2 separate regions of the Homo sapiens genome follow, and region 2 is reported to be linked to region 1. Evidence: microRNA targets listed by miRTarBase, many of them from high-throughput screens and not tested one by one. Region 1 holds a microRNA gene; the other region holds the end of a gene's coding sequence.

What was found. Region 1 holds the annotated microRNA hsa-miR-504-5p (AGACCCUGGUCUGCACUCUAUC, at 874-895, opposite strand). A microRNA usually pairs through its seed, bases 2 to 8, with sites in the 3' UTR of a target mRNA and lowers its output. Matches are read on the target gene's strand: a 7mer-m8 pairs with bases 2 to 8, a 7mer-A1 pairs with bases 2 to 7 and ends in A, and an 8mer does both.
Region 2: miRTarBase lists RABGAP1 as a target of hsa-miR-504-5p. The part of its 3' UTR that is shown has no 7-base or 8-base seed match.

The regions. Positions count from the first base shown.
Region 1 is chrX:138,666,887-138,670,055 of GRCh38, forward strand. It overlaps MIR504 (microRNA 504), which reads right to left and starts at 907; the gene lies at 825-907. The region is part of intron 3 of FGF13 (fibroblast growth factor 13); the gene reads right to left.
Region 2 is chr9:123,102,638-123,105,806 of GRCh38, forward strand. RABGAP1 (RAB GTPase activating protein 1) reads left to right here. Exons shown (of 26, transcript NM_012197.4): 26 at 454-2,229. The coding sequence ends at 576. Among named protein-coding and RNA genes, the nearest start is that of MIR600, 7.4 kb to the right of the region's middle. RefSeq lists a silencer at 1-227.

The DNA of each region.
Region 1 (3,169 bases):
AACAAATAAACAGAGAACAAACTAAATAGATTATTACTATTCAACCACTAAAATGTAGATTAAGAATAATATTTTAATATATAGAGGAATAGTCATAATAACGAGTAAACAGCAGGTTTGAAACATGGTATGCATAGTTATTCCAAATGTACATATATATCTTTATGTAATATATATGTATTTTATATATGTACACATATATGTGTATACATATATTATGCTATATCATATATTAGGTTATATATGTATATTATGTATTTATACATATATATAAAATACGTATATATTACATGAAGATATATATGTATATTTGGAATATATGTATACATATATAATATACATATATATTACATAAAAATGTATATTTGGAATATATGTATATATATAGAGAGAGAGAGAGAAAGAAAGACAAAGACAGAGAGAGAGAGATATACACGAATTCCAGCTAGCCACTACAAGGATCTATAACAGAACATTAATATTGGTTTTCTCTTGGTTGGGGGACTTTGTAGATACCTTTTTGTATTTTCCAATTTTTCTGCAAAGAACATATATTACATTGGTAAACAGAAAATAAACATACACAAAATAACTGTTCAGAAAGAAAAGCTCAATTAGAAACTTAACATTCTTACTGAACCTGACTATAAGAGAGTTACAAAGACATTTCAATAACTACTAAAGAGACTTATCAGGATTGAGTTTCTTCATAGAAGAGGATCAGTTGAATTTTCATGAAGCATTGGGGTGGTGGGGTAAGATTCCAGGTGAAATGGCTTTGAAGTTGAGTTCCAGTCAACATTTGCCATACGGTGGTAGTCTGTGCCCTCTGTATGGGAAACCCTGCCCTGCACTCCCTTCAGTAAGAATACAGATAGAGTGCAGACCAGGGTCTCCCAACAGCAGCTGATTCAACATTCCACTCCATATTTTCTGTCTTCTGTTGTGATTCTATGTGGGAAATGGATGGCTCGTTGAGTTACCTTTTCCTTTTGAGTTATTCCACTTCAGTGATGGACACTAACTGATGAGGGTAGACTGTGGCCTTGTGGATCAGTTCGTCCCCTGTAAACAGCTGTACTTTTGGACTTTACATAAATTTTTCTTAGTCTTAAAAAAAATGACAATTTAATATATGATAGGATTTCCATAGTCTTCCAAGAATTATAGGCTTATATATATTGGCCTGAAGGCAGCATGTTATTATATGGACTGTAACGGCAAATAATATGAAGCATTTGTTAACTTAATGAACTTAACACTGTAAAATGCTGTGCATGTATTATCATTCCATTTAATCCTCTTAAGAACCCTATGAGGTCTATACTACTATTACCTCCATTTTATAGATGAGGAAACTAAAGGACAGATGGATTAATAATTCCTTTGCCCCAAATCATAAACCTTATAAGCATTTGAATTGTGTTTCAAATCCATGTAATGTCAGAGCCCTCCCTCTTAACCACTACAGGCATTTTAAAGGCAGATATTATGTATCATTTATTATGATGCTGCAGCCTGCTTAAAATCAGGATAGCAAAAGGTTGTTGCCACAGGGTAAAAAGGGGAAGAAGTGGGGGAGGGTAGTGTGTTCTATTTCAGAGATAGAGACAATGACTCCATTGTTGGTTATTTTGAGTTTAAAGAGCCATTAGTGATAGGTTAATGTGCAGCAGCCATTTGTATATATAAGCCTGGCTCTCAAGATGAAAGGTGTCTGCATATGGATGGTAACTGAAACCACAAGAATACATTTAATAATCTAGAGAACACAAGCAGAATACAAGACAACTACTGAGGCTGGAAACTGGGGGTGGGGAGGACATCAAACATTTCAGAAAAGACGAGGGAAGTGTAAAAATTAAAAGAAAAATAGTGATGGTGTAGAACAGAGAAAAAGCAGTGTTGTGAAAGCCCACAGAAGAGATGGTTTCAATGAAAAAGTTGACCAACCTGGTCAAGTGCTGTAGAAAGGAGAAATAAGGTAAGGACTGAAGGGAGAAATGGATTTTAGTTGGCAGTCACTAGCGACATTAGCAGGAGGAGTTCATGGATGGCAATGTGGGCAGAAGATAGAATGCGGAGGGCTGAATAATTAAGAATTAGATGAGAAAATAAAAGCAAAGGTGAAGCTGAATAATTTAAAAATAGGCGAGAAAATGAAGAAAGCTCTTGCCTATCAAAGGAAAGAGACAGTCTGAAAGAGAAACTTAGGAGGGACTTTTTAGGATGAGAAGTCTTGAAATGATCTGTATGCCAGTGGAAAAAAGGTAGTAGTCCAGGAGGTAGTGAAGGTACAGGACAAAGGATAATTGATGTATCTAGGTCCCCATGGCTTTGGGAAGAGATAAAATAAATGGAAAAAGAAGAGGAACTTTTCTTTTGGGAGATGGTTGTTGAACTGAATGGCTTTTAAGGCCCTTCACAATACTGATGCAATTTCATAAAGGATGGAAAAATCCTACAGTTATTGTAGTGAGTTCTGGAAAACTAGACAGAGGATGTACTCCAGTGGTATCAGGCTGGCAATACATGGCACAAAACAATGTTACAAGGCTCCAGTGTACTTCAGACAACTACCAATAACCCCTGTGCCTGATGCTAAACCCAGACTTTTTTCAACAAATAACTGTCTCTTTTCCTTTCTTGTCTGGCTTCTTTTAAATGCTAAGTTTGAAATGTGATACCTTTGCATGAAAGCGGCATGCAGTCTACATGTCAGTTGATAAGAGTATACTGGAAATATTTCACTTTAATAATGTGGATAGGATCCTTCTGCCTCTCCCCTTCTCCCCTGGCCCCCACACCTTGTTCTTAATATCTCTGGATTCCATCTCTTCCCTAAAATACCTTTAGGATTTCTCCTATGTGCATAACAAATAACAGCATTATTTACATTTTAGCACTTCTTCTAAGACGTTTCCAGGTGCTAGATACAAGCTGTAGAAGAGCTTGCATTTTTTCCTTTAGATCTAAATAGTCTGAATCTCAGTATTGCTCATGGGAAACTGTTTCAAAGGCTGAAGTGTCAGAAGCAGAAAGGAAAGAAATGAGTGGGTGGGAAGTTCTACATGCAAACCTGTCACACTCTTCTTTCATTTTCAGACCTGAATATGCATGGATGCAGAAATTATAGCTTATTCCAAAGTTTTTATTGTCAGCATCAAAT
Region 2 (3,169 bases), not on the chromosome of region 1:
AGGAGAGTGGCTGCCCAGGAAGGACCCTCAGGAGTTCTTTCCTTGCAGTAGGGGATGGAGGTGGTGCTAAGGCTGGAAGAGAGTGTGTGGATCCAGATTGCGAAGCATTTCAAATGCCATGCTAGGGAGTTTAAAGATTTTTGCCAAAATGAAATGATGTCACCAGAAATAGAGCATTACCTGTCTGCCTGGTGTGCATTAGGTGGACAGAAGAGGGAGACATAGCAAGTAGAAGACTGTTTTAATAAATAGACCAGGCAAGAAATTAGATCTTAACTAAAAGCTCCCAAATCTTTAGGCATTTCAGGCATTTCTATGCCAGTTGGAGACTGGGGGAATTCCCCGAGGCCTCTCCAGAGTAAATAGACTGCATTCTTGTCTTGGTTCTCCTCTGGGGAGCCAGTGTCATTGACACCAAGCCCAGCATCCTCATGCACACTGTTCCTCTTGCAGGACTTGGAACACCATTTAGGGCTTGCCCTCAATGAGGTGCAGGCAGCCAAGAAGACGTGGTTTAACCGAACACTGAGCTCCATAAAGACAGCAACCGGGGTTCAAGGGAAAGAGACTTGCTGAGAGCAGCTGCCGCCTCCCGACACCTTCAGAAAACACGACACCTTTTGTTGCCTTCTTTGGCCAGATGTGTGATTCTGTGACTTGTCCCAGGACCAGAATGTACCTAAGTCAGATCCATAGACGCATGTTGGTAGGTCACTGGACCAGAGCTTGTGAAGCAGGCAACCTCTGGGGTAAGACTACTGATACTAACAGGCCTGCTAGCTCAGCCGACGCTCTGGACACTCTAGAAATCACTCCTCAGTGTGACCTCCCAGGCCTCTTCCCCGTGTACGTCAACACCTCACCCAGCCTAAAGGCTGAGTTTACATGATCAGAGTTAGGGGATCCTTCAGTCTGTTGATTTTTTTTCTAAACCTTTTTTTTTTAATATACATATATATATATATATATATATATATATATATATATATATATATATATAGTGGGGGTGGGGCAAGGGATCAGAAATTCAAATAATTCTTTTCTGCTTCAATGCCAGCAGAAGGTCCCCCAGGTAGACATGGAGAAGCACTTTGTTTTAAATAGGAGGGTTTCATAGTTGCATCTGAAGCCACCTGGTTCTGTTAAACTGTATGGTGCAGGTTTTGGGTTTGGCATTATTCATGTTTCTGATCAATTCTATGCAACTCTCATAGTTCCTGTTACTTTTTAGCATTAGCTGCCAAATGACTTCAAAAGGCTGGGGTGGGTGACTTGACTGTGAGACTGGATTATAACATGGACAAATCTTATTTTGCTTAATGTGTTTGTGTGTGTGTGTGTGTGTGTGTGTGTGTGTGTATGTATATATATATATAAATATCTTTCCCAATATGCCCCGTTGACAGTGTTTAAATTCCAGACTAGGACTGCTGATCTGCACAATTTAATTATGTGGTTATTCGAGCACTTAATTTCACTCAAGGTTCATTGGGCTCTGCTCTCCTCCCTGCCATTACGGGAGCTGTGGACAGAGCTCCCTCACTTCAAGATTCCTAGTGTTTTTGCACAACAGGTTGTCCAAGTGAGAAAGACTGAGTTGCGTGTCTGTAAATGTCTGCGCAGGGTGCACATGCTGCGAGGTCTCCATCCTCCGGGCCTGTCCCTCCCAGATGGGCTGGGCCTTTGGGCCCTCCTCAGAGTATGCCTGGGTACAAACCTCACTGTTCAGATGGGCTGTAAGTTCTCACTTCAAAGCTATGGAATGGATTTTAGCACCTTTAAAAAAAAAAAAAACTTTGACTTTTAATTTATATAGTGATATGCTGACAGGCTGACACGCAGATGGTTTTGTCCTCTTTTCTGCGTTCAGTGTTGAGGCGGCTGCTTACAAGAGGCACTGGTTTTGTATATAAAGACACTCGGGTTGTTTTGTAGCTCTTTTTCTTATTGGCTGTACTAACGCTTGCTGAGGTTATCTGTAATAAGGGAGGTAACAAGTGGCAACCCCCTCCCCACCAACCATCCCCTTTGCTGCTTTCTGTGTCTTTCTTGTTCAGTTACCAAAATAGCTGTAAGCCTATCTAATGCTAGGTGTGTGGACATTGTGCTAAGGTAGTTTCAGTGTGTCAACTTTATGAATTGAAATATAAACCAGTAAAATTGTATTACTGTTTCTTTTGTTGGTTTTATTTTAACAGCATATTGATTAAATATTTTGGTACAAACAAACAGCATTGCTTTGTAAAAACCAGTTTTGTCATCACCTACTCCTGTCGCCTCCCCTTCTTCCCTCATCCCCTGCGCACAGAAGCAGTCAGAGAAGACCACTGTGTGTGCTGTAAGAGAGGCATGTGTGAGCGCGAGGCAGCCCCTCACCCACCTGTTGAGACGTATGGAGTGGTAGGGTGTGGCAGGCCACATGGGGCAAGATGACGACGTTGATGCCTCTGTGTTTGTTTATGATGAACATTGCCCCTCTGAGAAATAACATGCTGTAGTAGCAGGGATGAGGGACACTTGGTGTTTTTGAGGCTTAAGGAAGCCTTACAGGAGGTAAGGGTCAAATTAGACCTTCAAAGGCAAAAGCATCTCACCAGGCAGAGATGGAAGAGGGAATTCCAGGGCCAAAGTGTGCATGTGCAGGGGAAACAGCTGAAGAGTAGAAAGGCAGGCTGAGCACCTGGGGGCCGGCTGTGGTCTGCTAAAAGCTTTAAAAGCAGTGACATGGAGTTGTCATCATCTTTTCAGAGCCTCTTTCTTCCTATCGCCTGTCCTCCACATCCCTGCACCATACAGATGAGGCTCCCAGGCCTTCTGCTGCCCCTCTTCACCACCTCAACCCCCTTCTCCATAGCAGGAAGAAGAACGAAGCTTCCCTAATCTTACGGTTCCCCCTTCCCGCTTGACCTGCCCTCTAGGACCCCACCTATGCCTAGCCTTTAAATGGATGCAGGCTGAACAGACCATAGCTTCATGCCTGCAAGAAGGATGACTGGATGGATGGCTGGATGGACAGACAGACAGATAAATGTAGATTAGATAGATAAAGTAGATGATAGATAAAATAATAGATAGATGAGATAGATAAGATGGATAGATAGATGATAGATCGATAGATATAGATAGATAGATAGATAGATAGATAGATAGATAGGGATAGAGATACAGA